Regions from separate parts of the Homo sapiens genome. Here region 2 is linked to region 1. The links come from fine-mapping of genetic effects on gene expression. A gene starts in region 1. The other region holds a variant in brackets. All regions are shown on one strand. Distances are between the middles of the regions.

The links.
Region 2: its variant is fine-mapped to the expression of NQO2 in whole blood (TOPMed, PIP above 0.99).

Annotation. Positions count from the first base shown.
Region 1 is chr6:2,995,216-3,003,452 of GRCh38, forward strand. NQO2 (N-ribosyldihydronicotinamide:quinone dehydrogenase 2) reads left to right here and starts at 4,679. Exons shown (of 7, transcript NM_000904.6): 1 at 4,679-4,870. It overlaps NQO2-AS1 (NQO2 antisense RNA 1), which reads right to left and starts at 4,460. Exons shown (of 2, transcript NR_186367.1): 1 at 4,176-4,460. RefSeq lists a silencer at 4,428-4,677.
Region 2 is chr6:3,017,192-3,025,595 of GRCh38, forward strand. NQO2 (N-ribosyldihydronicotinamide:quinone dehydrogenase 2) reads left to right here. Exons shown (of 7, transcript NM_000904.6): 7 at 2,288-2,564. The coding sequence ends at 2,464. LOC101927759 (a long non-coding RNA gene) reads left to right here and starts at 6,872. Exons shown (of 3, transcript NR_152848.1): 1 at 6,872-6,982. It also overlaps the pseudogene HTATSF1P2. RefSeq lists enhancers at 1-339, 340-839, 6,046-7,245 and a silencer at 8,284-8,404. The variant A/G (reference allele first, on the strand shown) is at 3,445.

The DNA.
Region 1 (8,237 bases):
TAATGTAAGCGGTGAGAAAATATTTTATCTCCGTCTAAGTAGGTCCTACCAGAGGGGAAACTAGACTCACTCAAAGATTGCTTTGATCAATCCACACACAGTTCAGTGATGGACAGAGTGTCAGTATCTGTTATATGTGTCACTATCCCATGCTAGAGGTGTCAATAGATTATGTAACCTTTCTGAGGAATCACAATACAATAATTGATAATAATATTGATCACATAAACATAGACTTCCTTGACACAGGATTGCCACAGACCTTCAATTTGTAAAAAAAAAAAAAATGCAACATCTGTGGAAGTACTATAAAGAGAAGCAGAATAAGGCAGATATGCCTGTATAAGACTAAGGGAGAATCTTAAAAGCTGCAAGAGATGTACAAGGGATCCTCAATAAATCCATACATCTGTGGCCAGTGAATTTTTGACAAGAGTGCCAAGTCCATTCAATGATGAAATAATAGTTTCTTTAATATATGCTGTGAGAGAAATGGATTTCCACATGCAAGACTAAAGTTGGGCTCCACTTCACACCATATGTGAAAAATAATTCACAACCTAAATATAAGAACTAAAGCCATATAGAGGAAAACGTAAGAGTAAATCTTCATGATCTTGTGTTTTGGGTTCTTAGATAAGACACTAAAAGCCCAGGAAGAAACAACAAAAAATAGGTAAATTGGAGTTCATAAAAAATGTGAAACTTTTATATCAAAGGACATTTTCAAGAAAGTGAAAGACAACCTACAGAATGGGAGAAAATATTTGTAAATCCTATGTCTGATAACATCCAGAATATGTAAAGAACACCTACAACTCGGCCGGGTGCGGTGGCTCACGCCTGTAATCCCAGCACTTTGGGAGGCCGACGTGGGCGGATCACCTAAGGTCGGGAGTTTGAGACCAGGCTGACCAACATGGAGAAACCCTGTCTCTACTAAAAATATAAAATTAGCCAGGCGTGGTGGCGTATTCCCGTAATCCCAGCTACTCGGGAGGCTGAGGCATAAGAATCACTTGAACCCAGGAGGCGGAGGTTGCGGTGAGCCGAGATCTCGCCATTGCACTCCAGCCTGGGCAACAAGAGCAAAACTCCGTCTCAAAAAACAAACAAAAAACCTACAACTCAACAACAAATAGACAAACAACCCAATTAAATGGTCAACAAAGGACTTGAATAGACATTTCTCCAAGGAAGGTATACAAATGGCCAGTAAGCACATGAAAAGATGCTCAAAGTCATTAGTCCTTAGGGAAATGCAAATCAAAACCACAATGAGATACCACTTCGCACTTGCTAGGATGGCTATAATTTAGAGGGAAAAAAAAGAAACATAACAAATGTGCGTGAGAATGTAGAGAAGTTGGAACCTGTGTACATTGTTGGTGAAAATGTGAAATGGTGTAGACGCTGTGGAAAACAGTTTGGCTGTTCCTCAGAAAGCTAAACATAGAATGACCATAGAATTGTAATACCGACAATTCCACTCCAAGGTGTATAACCAAAATTATTGAACACAGGGACTGAAACAGATACTTGTACACCAATAATCATTGCAATATTATTCACAATAGTCAAACAACAGATGAGTGGATAAACAATGCCTGGTACCCTTCCTTCCTTCCTTCCTTCCTTCCTTCCTTCCTTCCTTCCTTCCTTCCTTCCTTCCTTCCTTTCTTTTTCTTTCTCTCTTTCTTCTTTCTTTTCTTTCTGTCAGTCTTGCTCTTGTTGCCCAGGCTTGAGTGCAATGACACAATCTCAGCTCACCGCCACCTCTGCCTCCTGGGTTCAAGTGATTCTCCTGCCTCAGCCTCCCGAGTAGCTGGGACTACAGGTGCACACCACCATGCCCAGCTAATTTTTGTGTTTTTAGTAGAGATGGGGTTTCCCCACGTTGGCCAGGCGGTATACACATTTTTCTATTATTCGGCCATAAAAAGGAATGAAGTTCTGATGCATACTACAACATGGATGAAACTCAGCAACAAGGTTTTTGAGGAAAAAAAGCTTAGTGAAAAGGCCACATCTTGTAGGATTCCACTTATATGAAATACATGCAATAGACAAATTCATGGAGACAGAAAGTAGATTAGAGGCTACCAGGAGTGGAAGGAGGGGAGAATGGGGATTTATTATCCAATGAGTGCAGTGTTTCTATTTGTTTTTGTTTTTGTTTGAGACAGGGTCTCGCTCTGTCATCCAGGCTGGAGTGCAGTGCCACGATCTCAGCTCACTGCAGCCTCCGCCTCCTGGGTTCAAGCAATTCTCCTGCCTCAGCCTCTGAGTAGCTGGGATTACAGGTGTACACCACCTGGCAAATTTTTGTAGAGATGGGGTTTCGCCATGTTGGCCAGGCTGGTCTCAAACTTTTGACCTCAGGTGATCTGCATGCCTCTGCCTCCCAAAGTGCTGGGATTACAGGCGTGATCTATGGCCCCTGACCCAAGTGTTTCTATTTGGGATGATGAAAACGTTTTGAAAATAAATAGTTGTAATGGTTGCACAGCACTCTAAAGGTAATTTATGCCACTGAATTGTACACTTAAAATGGTGAAAATAGAAAATTTCATGTTATACAGATTTTGCTACCCAAAAAACAAAACAAAAAATCCAAAACCTTTATGTTATTATGAAGAAGCAGTTTTCCAAAGGAATAGGGATGCTGGTAGCAGAAGGGAAAGAAATCTCATTAAATAAAAACAAAAGCAATGACCTCTTCAGGAGGTGGCTCAGCTAGTTTAGCTTTACCTTAGCACCATGATGGTTCATTTTATTCAGAAATAGAAACATGGGGCGTTGGGGAGAAGAGGAGATGTGTACCTGCCTCACCTGCCTCCCTGCCCAGAATGCCGACTCCGACTCTTGCTTTCCACTAAGGCTGGGGATTAAATGAAAAGTGAGAATCTGGAAACCCCCAGAGATGATGTTTGTCGTTGGAGCTGATTTTATCTCATTTTAGTAGCATGACCTCCTCCTCAAACTCAGGATGCAATTATGGTCAATCTCATTAGTGTGCAGTAATTGCTCAGCCCCAATACCAGATTAGCAGGAAGTTCTGTTATTTTCCTTTTGAGGATGGGCTCCTACTGAACTGTCCTGGAATCTACCACCATTCAGGTTACAAAAGACCCAGGGAACTAGGCCAGTCCAGCTCCCAACCCCAAGCAGGGAGCAACTTGCTCAGTCCACGTTGTGATAGCTCCTCGCTGCCACAAGGTGGTGATGTTGCATCACACACGCGCATGATGGGCGCGCAGGCGCCAATGCTCCCAGGACCTGCTGTTCCATTCCTAAATGAAAGTTGTTCCCAGGATCTGGACTCACAAGACAAGGCAGCCTATTCCCTGCTGGGGAGCTCAGGGGCAAGAGGGCATCTCGGAGGGAGGGCACATTCTCACCTCTGAAGACAAGGAGAACATCATCAGCACATAGACCAATCCCAGCAGTGCACCTTAGGATGGGGAGGGCCACTGTGAGTTACAGCAAAATGAACGAATGAATGAACCAATAAATGTCTGAGAGGGAAAGTCCCAACGACCCTCAGGAGGTACAATCAAGAGTTGCAGTTATTTTCGTTAGGAACGTTCTAAACACAGGGGAAACCTTCCTTCCTTCTGCTCTATTGTTGGAGTGGGGCCATCCCGGGACACCAGAAATCAAGGAATTGAGTTTGGAGAAGGGACTTGGGGAGGTCACAGTGGCAGGTGACTGCCAAATGAGGTGGCAGAAGCCAGCAAGCGCTGGAAAAAGTCGGCCCAAACTGTTCACCAGCACCGCCCCCCATAACTCCCCACCGGCTCTGGTTTCAAGACTTTCCGTTTTCTAGGTATTTCCTTGGCCTTAAACCATTTTCCTTTAAACGAACTTTTTCTGTGAAGCCATCCGGTTTCCCCCGATAGTGGCATCTCACAAAGGACAATCCAGTATCCCAACAGCGTGTTGCGTTCCGCGGGACGCAGATTTCCTTCACAGGCACCCCCCGGGTTGCGTTTTTATAGCCACACCCACCCGCCCCCCTATCTCCTGGGCACTGCTAATGAGTCCTGCATTTCTCTCCTTTGGTCTTTGGATAAATGAACCATCCGTGCGTGACCTTTGCGAGGGCATCTTGCATAATACCAGTACACCAGCGGCGCCGTCGGTGAGTGACCTTTGGGACTGGTTTCTCTCACCAGCGTAACTCCCCGGGAGATCCGAGCAAGCTGATGAGTGTATCAGTGGCTCATTCTTTCTGTTGCACCACGGACCCTCATTCTGTAACCGGGATACCAGCCAGAGATGGGGAGCGGGAGGCGCAGGGCAGGGGCGTCCCTCCTCTCAGCACAGCCTCCCCGCGCTGGATTTCTATCAATCCAGTTTCCACCTGCCTGGAAGTCAGCAGGGTCCTCCCCAGTCCCAGATCGCCGGGCGAGGCCCCAGATGGACCTCAGGGGCGGGGAGTGGGCGGAGCTTAGGGGCCGAGGCGAGGTGTGGGTGGGGCGGGACGCCGCTGTGGAGGCGGGGCCTGGGCGCGGACGGGCGCGGAGCGAGGCACCGCACCGCCGGGGCGGGGAGTGGGCGGGGCTCGGGGGCGGGGCGGGGTGTGGGCGGGGCTCACGGGCGGGGCGGGTGAGTGGGCGGGGCCTCGGCGTGGTAGGCGCGCTGCGTAAAGAGGCCTGCAGTCCCGCGGCGCGGGGCAGGTTCCGGGCTGCTTAGGTTGGCACCGGTCCGTGGTCCCCGGGGGCGCAGTCGCAGCGCTCCCGCCCTCCAGGCGTCAGCGAGTGCGCGGTCCAGTGCGGCCGGAACCTGGCGCAACTCCTAGAGCGGTCCTTGGGGAGACGCGGGTCCCAGTCCTGCGGCTCCTACTGGGGAGTGCGCTGGTCGGAAGGTGAGTGATCCCCTGTCGGGGACCGGGGGACTTGGGAAGGACAGTTCCCGGACTGGACGGCCAGAACGCTCTCAGGGATTTCAGCTGGCCGGCCATATGGCCCTGTGGGTCGTCGCGCCCGGGCCAGGGACCATTCTGTACATAGGATCGTGCTTGGCTCTCACGGAACGCGCCCACACGCAGGGTCCCGGTGTCGAATCGTCTGGTGGAATCTGCCCTCAACCCTATGGAGCGGGTGCTGGTATCATAGTCATATTACAAGTAGGAATCAGCGGGCCCAAGGTCAGTCTGTAAAGGGGGTACCGGGGTTTAGGCCCGTGCGCTGCCCAGCGCTGCCCTGAAGGCGCGGCTGAACCACTGGTTTGCGCTGCCTTTGTCAAGGACATTGTGGCACTGTGGAAAAAATGAAAAATCAGCTTCTCTAACCTATAATCTCTCTGGGAAAAAAAAAAATCAGCTTTTTTTTTTTTCCCCGAGACGGAGTCTCACTCTGTCGCCCAGGCTGGAGTGCAGTGGCACGATTTCGGCTCACTGCAACCTCCGCCTCCCGGGTTCAAGCAATTCTCCTGCCTCAGCCTCCCGAGTACCTGGGATTATAGGGGCGTGCCACCACGCCTGGCTAATTTTTTGTATGTTTAGTAGAGACGGGTTTCATGTTGGTCAGGCTGGTCTCAAACTCCTGACCTCGTGATCCGCCCGCCTGGGCCTCCCAAAGTGCTGGGATTGCAGGCGTGAGCCACTGCTCCCGGCCCTCTTTTTCTTTTTTCTTTTTTTTTTAGAAGAGTCTCACTCTGTTGCCCAGGCTGGAGTGCAGTGGGGCAATCTCAGCTCACTGCAACCTCTGCCTTCCAGGTTCAAGCGATTCTCCCCCCTCAGCCCCTTGAGTAGCTGGGATTACAGGCGCCTGCCACCATGCCCGGCTAATTTTTGTATTTTTAGTACAGGTGGGAGTTTCACCATATTGGCCAGGCTGGTCTTGAACTCATTCTTCTTCCTTTCTTTTTCTTTTTTTTTTTTTTTTGAGATGGAGTTTCACTCTTATTGCCCAAGCTGGAGTGCAATGGCACAATCTCAGCTCACTGCAACCTCTGCCTCCCGGGTTCAAGCTATTCTCCTGCCTCAGTCTCCCGAGTAGCTGGGATTACAGGTGCGTGCCACTACACCCAGCTAATTTTTGGTATTTTTAGTAGAAATGGAGTTTCACCATATTAGTCAGGCTGGTCTCAAACTCCTGACCTCAGGTGATCCGCCTGCCTCGGCCTCCCAGAGTGCTGGGATTAATGAACCACTGCGCCCGGCCAAAAATCAGCTTCTTTAACCTTTAATCTCTGAAAAAATAAATCAGTTTAACCTTTAATCTCCGAAGATCACAGCCAAAGAAATACATGAAAAGGAACAAGTATTAAATAATATATACTTCTAGCTGTGCTGTTTATAGTTTTGGGAAAAAAATGGAAATAACCTAAGGTCCCAGAAATAGGAAAATGGGCACAAAAGGGTATGCAGGCAATGGTTTAGCTGCCGCATGAATACACACTGAATACACTGTGAGATGTTGTCTGTTAGAATGCCCAGCACGGGGACTGTCCACATGGAAAGAGGCACAGGAAAAAAAGTGAAAACATTATAAAATAACTTCTTAAAATTAAATAATGTACACGTCAAAAATATCAGAGCCCACTTGACCTGGTATATACAGTTTAATAACCACATGGCTCTTTTTTCCTGTAGGCCTGGGTAGGTGCATAGTTTCTAAAAAGGGAGAGAACTGTCACTGCTGTGGATGGGGTGCCAAGGGAAGTGCCTGGGGTCAAGTGAACAGTGACACAACTGCAAGTCAAGAGCCTGTGTTGGAGTCTTTCCCCACTATTTCAAATAGTATAGAAAATAGAGCTGAGTCACTCAAATAGAGCTGAGTTAGTCACTCAGCTCTTGGACCTCAGATTCTTATTCTTAACCGCTAGGGGGATGGAGACAGAAGTCACAAACTCACATGCCACCAGCCATATGATGTAAACATGTAAACTGGGCCAAGGAATACAAAAGGGAGTGGTGAGCTGGGGACACTGAAGAATGGATGCCCTGTCTAGAGGAGTGAAAATGAAGCATTTCATACAAACAACATGATTTCGGGCAATCACTTTGGGAATCAGGATAAGGTGTTCCCCCAGTCTGCAGAAACACTGGCAACATTTACAAAGGTAAATCATTTCATATCACTCTATTTTCTTTTTCTTTTTTGAGACAGAGTCTTGCTCTGTTGCCCAGGCTGGAGTGCAATGGCACAATCTTGACTCACTGCAACCTCCACCTCCCAGGTTCAAGTGATTCTCCTGCCTCAGCCTCCCAAGTAGCTGGGACTACAGGCACATGCCACCATACCCGGATAATTTTTGTATTTTTTAGTAGAGATGGTGTTTTGCCACATTGACCAGGCTGGTTTCAAACTCCTGACCTCAGGTGATCCCCCCACCTCGGCCCCCCAAAATGCTGGGATTACAGGTGTGAGCCACCACAACTGGCGATCATTCCATATTACTCTCCAGCTTAAGAGGCTCCAAGGGCTTTCTGTCAGGCTTAGAATAAAATCCTCACCCCTACCCTAGGAGGGGTCAGGTCAGACCCCTCCCACCTCCCTGACTGCATCTACCACCATCCACTCTTTTTTTTTTTGAACCACAGTTCAGCCAAACAGGCTTTCTTTTTTTTCTTTTACTTTCTCTTTTTTCTTGAAACAGAGCCTAACTCTGTCACCCAGTCTGGAGTGGAGCAATCCTCTAATCTCAGCCCCCTGAGTAGCTGGGATTACAGGCATGCACCACCACACCTGGCTAATTTTTAAAAATCTTTGGTAGAGATGGGATCTCACTATGTTGCCCGGGCTGGTCTCAAATTCCTAGGCTCAAGTGATCTCCTGCCTCAGCCTCTCAAAGTGCTGGGCCTTCTGCTTCCCTGGGCTTTGCCAGGCCTCCCTATGCATTGTGATAGCCAAAGTTTGCTTTCTACAAAGTCACCTCCAGGCAGTGACTGTCCACCAGGGCACTGTAGAGCCTCCCAGCTAATGATGAAGTCACTCACTCTCCTCTCTTTTTCCTTTAAGATAATCCCTTTCCAGACCCGCCATTTTGGCTCACCCTGTAAGTTACAGCCCCACTTCTCACTGCCAAGTGTGGGTGTCACTGCTGGCTCAGGGAGCATGGATCCTGTAAACTTGCCTCATCGGGAGGCTTTGAGGAGTGACCCCCAGGAACTAGACAAGTAACTTGTTCTTCACAATCACTGCCCTCCCAAGAACATCCAGGATTTCAGCCTCAGTGCTAAGACAACCATGTCTCTCCCTGACACATGCTCGCTGCTGAGAATTCTA
Region 2 (8,404 bases), 22 kb after region 1:
TGCTTTACTTGACAGATTTGAAAAGCTTGACCAATAGGGAAAACATGCCCTAATTATAGCTTTTGATATGGTTTGGGCAGAAGCTAAGCCAAACCTGCTTAGCTTGGTCAGCAGAATGGCCCCAAGGTGGCCCTGCGTGTGTTGTGATACGTGCGGGTGGAGGCCATCCATATGGCTCTGGCAGTGCTTGGTGAGGGCAGCACTGCCCTTGGACCCTGGCAAGTGGCACCCCAGGCCCTGCATTCTGATGGCCGCATGCTGGTCTCTGCTGGCCATGCCAACCCCCACAGGGGCAAGGGGCCTATGGAGCCAGCACACACCCACCTCCCAGTCCGCAGGCCCCTCCCAGGCCTGCTTCCCCAGGGGACCTCTTGGTGCCTGCGTGAGTGTCCCTGGGCCTGAAATGTGGCCGAGTAGTGGCCACCTGCCAAAGGGAAGGTGGTGGGCAGAGCAGTTCCAACGTGCTGGGGTGTCCCACGAAGGAACCCCTGGTGAGGGGTGGCAGAGGGAGGGAGTGGGGAGCAGACTCCAGGTCAGGGGCTCCAGGGAACCCAGAAACCTAGGGGTCAACTGTTCTTCCAGGTTGTTTAAGGGAGGTTTGTCGAGACAGGGGGAGAGCTCGTTCTTGAGGGGTAGGGAGTTTGCTGGGAAAATGCACGCGTCACCCCTTTTCTGTGAACTCTCTCTAGGTGCACGTGCCTTGCCCATGTCCTATTGGTTTGGTATTTTTTAATTTTCTATTTGTCAGTGCTCTTCATATATCAGAGAAATTAATCCTATTATGTCCTTTCAAAACACAATGATTTTTCCTTCTACAGGCAGTGCACATTGACTAAGTTCATTCCTTGCTTTTGTTGTTGTTTGCTATTATAAATAGGATTTTGTCTTCAATTATATCTTCTAAAAGTTCTTTTGATTGGTGAAAGCTATTGATTGCTGAATATTGGTTTTTGACCCCGACCATTTGCTGTTTTCTCCTCCTAATCATAATTTTTTCTTAGTTGGTTTCCAGTAATAAAGTCATGTTGTCTGAAGCTGGGTGCGGTGGCTCACGCCTGTAATTCCAGCACTCTGGGAGGCTGAGGCAGTGGATCACCTGAGGTCAGGAGTTTGAGACCAGCCTGGCCAACATGGCGAAACCCCATCTCTACTAAAACACAAAAATTAGCCGAGTGTGGTGGCGGACACCTGTAGTCCCAGCTACTTGGGAGGCTGAGGCAGCAGAATCGCTTGAACCTGAGAGACGGAGGTTGCAGTGAGCCAGGATTGCACCACTGCACTCCAGCCTGGGCAACAGAATGAGAATCCACCTCAAAAACAAGCAAACAAACAAACAAATAAATAAAATGATGTTGCCTGAGGAAAAAAATGTGGATAGTGGTGTGTGGGCCTCTCACTCCCCACCTGACAGGGCAGGCCTGGATGAGGGTGTGGGTTTTAAAGGAAGTAATGCAGAGGATTGAGTGTGACATTTTTAGAAAAAAAGTGGTCCTCTTTGAAAGGAAAAAGTACGTGATTCCAGTTACTGATAGTCTACTGAAGGAAATGATAATTTATAAACCTGACCTTGCTTCTTCACAGGCCAACTGGTCTCTTATGTGTCATTAGCCAAGTTCAAATTCTTCTTGCTTTTAAAAAAATCTTTTTTTTTTTCAGTTTGCAGAAGTACATATTATGGCCAAAAAAAAAAGAGACAATATGAAATATAAAAAGAGAAAATCCCTTTAATCCCTCCCACCTCAGAAAGAATCACTTTAAATGGTTTGATTTATTTTCTTAGGGCCTATATATTTTCTCACATACATAATTTTTATTATAGGTTTATTACATTTACTGCTCTTTTACATGAATGGTATATCATAAATACGGCTTAAAATTTGTTTGTTATTTTCATTTAACAGATATCTTGAACAAACTTCCATGGTATATATTATAGCTAGAATAACCTCATTCTGGAATAATCTATAGTGTGAATGTACCATAATTTGCCCAATCAAGCAGAACTATAATGTTTGGCATCTGAATCAGTTGCAAAGATTGTAGGTTAATTGCAGTTATAAAAATAGAGCTTGGAAATTGCAACTGCCCCAAGTTCTTCACGGCTCTTATGCAAGGCTGTGTCCTAAAGCCATAGGGAAGTTTAGCTTTCAGTTGCCTGTAACATTAAGGTTGTTTCATGATTTTTTGAAGGTTTGTTTCACACCATTTCCCCCCTTAAATCATTTAACTGAATGGTATGTAACAGGTGTAGTTTCTAATGAGTTCTTTTCTTCCCCTGTGGCTTTAGCATGGCACATTACACTTCTGTGGATTTAAAGTCCTTGCCCCTCAGATCAGCTTTGCTCCTGAAATTGCATCCGAAGAAGAAAGAAAGGGGATGGTGGCTGCGTGGTCCCAGAGGCTGCAGACCATCTGGAAGGAAGAGCCCATCCCCTGCACAGCCCACTGGCACTTCGGGCAATAACTCTGTGGCACGTGGGCATCACGTAAGCAGCACACTAGGAGGCCCAGGCGCAGGCAAAGAGAAGATGGTGCTGTCATGAAATAAAATTACAACATAGCTACCTGGGGATACTTTTTTCTTTCTGTTTTTTGTTTGTTTTTAATTTTAGCTTTAAGGAGCACATGGCCAGTACTGTTTCAGGGGAATATTGGGTGGCGCTGGGGTTTGGGCTTCTATTGATCCCATCACCCAAACAGTGAGCATAGTTCCCAATAGATAGTTTTTCAACACTTCCTTTCCTCCCTTCCTTCCCGCTTTTGGATTCCCAGCATCTATTGATCCCGTCTTTTCACCCCTGTGTACCCAATGTTTAGTTCCCACTTATAAGTTAGAACATGGGGAATTTGGTTTTGTTTCTGTGTTGATTCACTTAGGATAATGACCTCCAGCTGCATCCACGTTACTGCAAAGGACAGGATTTCATGTTTTTTTATGGCTGCATAGTATTCCATGGCGTCCGTGTACCACACTTTCTTTATCCAGTCCACTGTTGATGGGCACCTGGGTTGATTCCATGTCTTTGCTACTGTAAATAGTTCTGTGATGAACATACAAGTGCAGGCATCTTTTCATAGAATGATTTTTTTTTTCCTTTTGGTAGATACCCAGTAATGGGATTGCTGGGTTGAAGGGTAATTCTATTTTTAGCAAACTAGAAATATTTAATGAAGTACATGAATGAGTGTCTTCAGAATTGTACACAGTGAGATCAAATATTTTAATAATGAGCTTGTTATGTTGAATTCTATTCTGACCATCACTCACTGAGATTTTCTTTTCTTTCTTTCTTTTCTTTTCTTTCTTTTTTAAAGAGACAGAGTTTCACTATGTTGCCCGGGCTGGTCTCAAACCCCTTGCCTCAAGTAATCTTCCCACCTTGGGCCTCCCAAAGTGCTGGGATTGCAGGTGTGAGCCACCACACCTGGCCCAGATTTTCTTTA[A/G]TATTTGTCTAATATCTTTCCATCTCCCTATATTCAAGCTTCATGTAATTTTATTTTCTGGTAATTCTCTGAGCATAGAGCTGGATTTGCTAGTTTTTTTATTTTATGACTCAACATGACAGTTTCTATTTTTCATAGAAAAGTTGAATCTGGGCCTGTTGCTTAATTTTCTTCTTTGTCTTTTTAAATTTACATTAGGACTATGAAGTTTTAATTGAACAGCCATTAACATATATGGTTATATGTTGCATGATGTTTCAATCAGTGATGGACTGCATGTACGATGGTGGTCCCCTAAGATTATAATGCCATGTTTTGTTTATTAAAATTTATTTAAGATTTATTTTATTATTTTTATAGATGAGGTCTCACTCTGTTGCCCCAGCTGGGTGCAGTGGCATGATCATACCTCACTAGGCTCAAGTGATCCTCCTGCCTCAGCATCCCTAGTAACTAGGACTACAGGCACATGCTACCACGCCTGGCTAATTATTTTAATTTTTGGTAGAGACAGGATCTCATTATGTTGCCCAAGCTGGTCTTGAACTCCTGGTCTCAAGCAGTCCACCCACCTCAGCTTCCCCAAGTGCTGAGATTACAGGCATGAGCTGCCTGCACCTGGACTAATACAGTAATTTTACTGTACCTTTTCCATGTTTAGATACAGAGATACCTATTATTGTGTTACAGTTGCCTACAGTATTCAGTACAGTAACATCTCTACAGGTTTATAGCCAAGGGCAATAGGCTCTACCATAAAGCCTGGGTGTGTAGTAGGCTGTACCATCTAGGTTTGTGTAAGTGCATTCTATGATGTTTGCGTGACAATGAAATCAACTAATTATGAAATCACTTAATGATACATTTCTCAGAATGTATCTCTTTTGTTAAGTGAAACATTACAAAATTTATTTTTTTGGGCACAGTGGCTCACTCCTGTAATCCCAGCACTTTGGGAGGCCAAGGCGGGCATGCCGATCACGAGGTCATCTCCTACAGGCAGTGCACATTGACTAAGTTCATTCCTTGCTTTTGCTGTTGTTTGCTATTATAAATAGGATTTTGTCTTCAATTATATCTTCTAAAAGTTCTTTTGATTGGTAAAAGCTATTGATTGCTGAATATTGGTTTTTGACCCCGACCGTTTGCTGTTTTCTCCTCCTAATCATAATTTTTTCTTAGTTGGTTTCCAGTAATAAAGTCATGTTGTCTGAGGCCGGGTGCGGTGGCTCACGCCTGTAATCCCAGCACTCTGGGAGGCTGAGGTGGCGGATCGAGACCACCCTGGCTAACACAGTGAAGCCCTGTCTCTACTAAAAATACAAATATTTAGCCGGGTCTGGTGGCGGGCGCCTGTAGTCCCAGCTACCCGGGAGGCTGAGGCAGGAGAATGGCGTGAAGCTGGGAAGCAGAGCTTGCAGTGAGCCGAGATTGTGCCACTGCACTCCAGCCTGGGTGACAGAGCGAGACTCCGTCAAAAAAAAAAAAAAAAAATTAATGGCTGGGCACTGTGGGTCATGCCTGTAATCCCAGCAATTTGGGAGGCTGAGATGGGATAACTGCTTGAGGCCAGGAGTTCAAGACCAGCTTGGGCAACATAATGAGACCCATCTCTACAAAAAATTTAAAAATATACATTAGTTAGGCATGGTGGCACGCACCTGTAATTCCAGCTACTCAGGAGGCTGAAGCAAGAGGGTCACGTGAGTCCAGGAGTTCAAGGCTGCAATGAGCCATGACTGTGTCACTGCACTCCAGCCTGGATGACAGAGCAAGACTCTTTTTAAAAATAGCCAGGCGTGATGGCTCTCACCTGGAATCCCAGCATTTTTGGAGGCTAAGATGGGCAGATTGCTTGAGTTCAGCAGTTTGAGGCCAGCCTGGGCAACATGGCGAAACCCCAACCCTATAAAAAAAAAAAAAAATTAGCCAGGTGTGGTGGCACACATCTGCAGTCCCAGGTACTTGGGAGGCTGAGGTGAGAGAATCGCTCGAGCTGGGAGGCAGAGGTTGCAGTGAGCTGAGATCACACCACTGCACTCCAGCCTTGGGTGACGGAATGAGACCTGTCTCAAAAAACAAATAAATAAATAAAAATAATTTAAAAATCATTAATTGCCAGTTACAATGAAAATTTAAAACTTTTAAAAAATTTAGTCTGATGGCATTGTACCACTGTGCCGTGTTCACGTAACCCTACTAATAATCACCCTGACACACAGCCACATGCAGATGGAGGAACTTCCCTAAAAGCAAGTTTGAGGGATTAAATATCATCTTTGTCATCATATCCTCCTCTTTTCCCTTTTCCTCCTCCTCCTTGTCATCACTACTGAGGACAGCACTGCTGGCTGTGCCCAGGGGCCCTTCTTCCTCAACGCCCCCAGCACCACCCAAAGTCCCCCTCTGTGGAATCGGAGCACTGAGTGTGTTGGCCTCAGGGACACTGAAGGAAGCCGCCCGCCCGTCCTCTCAGCCTTGGAGTCTGTTCAACCATTATCATTCAAACCACCTTCCATCAAAGGTTTGAATACAATGAGCAGCTGCTCCTGCATTCCTCCAGGACACAGGTTCACCAGCTGGGTGTCTGTCAAAGACAATGAGCCTCCGAGTTGGTCCAAACTTGACTCTCCTTGAAGGTCTTCTCTGGCCATCCTCAAAATCCACAGGATGAAATGTGTTCGATGAGGACAACTCACTCGTGTCGCGGCGTTTGGATGGGCTGCGGCGTGGCCGCTTCTGCCGTAGAGACGGAGCCTTCCTGTGGTTCGCGCACTTCCTTCCTGAAGCCTCATATTTCCCATTCCGTTGATACTTGGCCACCTCAACCTGCAACGTGCAGTTTCCAGTGTCATCTTCATCCAAATGCATGAATGCAAGATCCACAGCTTCCCTCTTCCAATGATCGCACAGCCTGTCTCCTTTAAGATGTCCTTGGTTATCTCTGTAAAACTTGACCTTAAGTTCTTCTGTCTGGGGATCGCTCATAATAATGCCAAATGGACAGGCGTGTGAATGCCTCCACGGTAACGACCAGAGGCAAACCGGCACATACACGTTTGTATTTCTCCTTCTTCAGCATGAAGCCTTCCTTTTTCTCCCCTCTTTGTGGGATCAGTGGGTTTGGGGTTTTTCTTGGTGGCAGAGCAGCGCCGTCACCGAGCAGCCGTCGCTGGCCTGATATGCAGCGGTGAAGTCTTCACTGGTTTCTCTTCTGCTCCTGTGTGCTTGCAGAAACCGGGCTGGCTCTTGATTGGGATTGTAGGCTGCAGAGGCTGGGGAAGGGCAGACAGCCTCGGGAGACACGCCGGAAAGGGCGGCTCCCTCGTGCTCCTCAGTGACTCAGGGTTTTGGCCACATAGCTCCCCTCCTCCACCCTCGCTCAGCAGGCTGCATCCGGGGCGGGGCTGGCAGGCAAAGAGGCTGTGTCACAGCCCTTCAGAGCCTCAAGCTGGGGTCCCTAGGGTTTCTGGACCTCAGATCACTGTGAGGCAGGAGGTCCTCCACCCTCCCTCCGGCAACTCTGAAGTATGGGAAGGTGCGTTCTCGAACTGCCGAGGGGCCTGTTCCTGTGTGGGTTGAGAGGATGGGAAGTTGCTGAAATCCAACCTCTCTGAGAGCCGGTGCTGTCACCTTGGCCTGAGTATGCTGAAGACATTAATTCCGGTTCCCAAGCAAAACTGTTAGCAATTCGAGGGCTGGGCTCTTGCCTATGTCTCATCTCCTGTTAGTACCGGGCACCCTGATACATTTTCTGCCGGTTTTTAAGAATTTTTTTTTGAGACGGAGTTTCACTCTTGTTGCCCAGGCTGGAGTGCAATGGCGCGATCTCGGCTCACCTCGACTTCCACCTCCCTGGTTCAAGCGATTCTCCTGCCTCAGCCTCCCGAGTAGCTGGAATTACAGGCATGCGCCACCATGCCCGGCTAATTTTGTATTTTTAGTAGAGACAGGGTTTCTCCATGTTGGTCAGGCTGAACTCACCCGACCTCAGGTGATCTGCCTGCCTTGGCTTCCCAAAGTGCTGGGATTACAGGCATGAGCCACCGCGCCCGGCCGGTTTTTAAGATCTTATTGCTGAAAAACTTAAAATAAAAAATAAATTCAGTATCAGCAGGGCAGCAGGAATTGCCATTAAAAAAAAAAAAAGAAAATTGGAAATGACTGCAGCCAGGTGTGTGTGATTGGGCCCCGCGACCTTTTTCTTAGGCAAACAGGGCTTTGTGGATGCAGAAAGACTTCTTTGGTTGTGTAGTTTGTCTCAGAGCCTCTCGTGGGTGGAGCCTGGTAAAAAGAGGAAAGAGACTCATGTTGCTCAATGTGAGGAAGCACCAGGAATTTTGGAGAAGTTCCCAGCAGCTCAGGAGAGTGGCTGGTGCCTTGTCCCAGGGGAGAGGGAAATAAGCACAGGCCTATTTCTTTCTCAAGACGGAAAAACCGAGCCCCAGAAAATGGCGATAAGATGGGGATGCAGGAAAAAGCTAGCTAATGAACAGTTCAGCAGTGGGCACCGTGTGGGAACCTCTCCTAAGCCGCCCTCCCTCTGATGGATGCATGCTCAAGTGATTTCGTTGGCCCTTAAAGGAAAGTGTTATTCCATCCTGTAATCCTAGCACTTTAAAAGGAGGCCGAGGTGGGAGGATCACCTGAGGTCAGGAGTTCACGACCAGCCTGGCCAACATGGTGAAACCCCGTCTCTACTAAAAAATACAAAAATTGGCCGGGTGTGGTGGCATATGCCTATAGTCCCAGCTACTTGGGAGGCTGAGGCAGGAGAATCACTTGAACCCGGGAGGTGGAGGTTGCAGTGAGGTGAGATCGTGCCATTGCACTCCAGCCTGGCCACAGAGCGAGACTCCATCTCAAAAAAAAAAAAAAAAAAAGACATCTGCCCAAGGGTCATAGCTGTAGAGGGGCAGATGTGGTTTGAACCCAGGGCGTCTGGTTCCTCTCTGGAAGC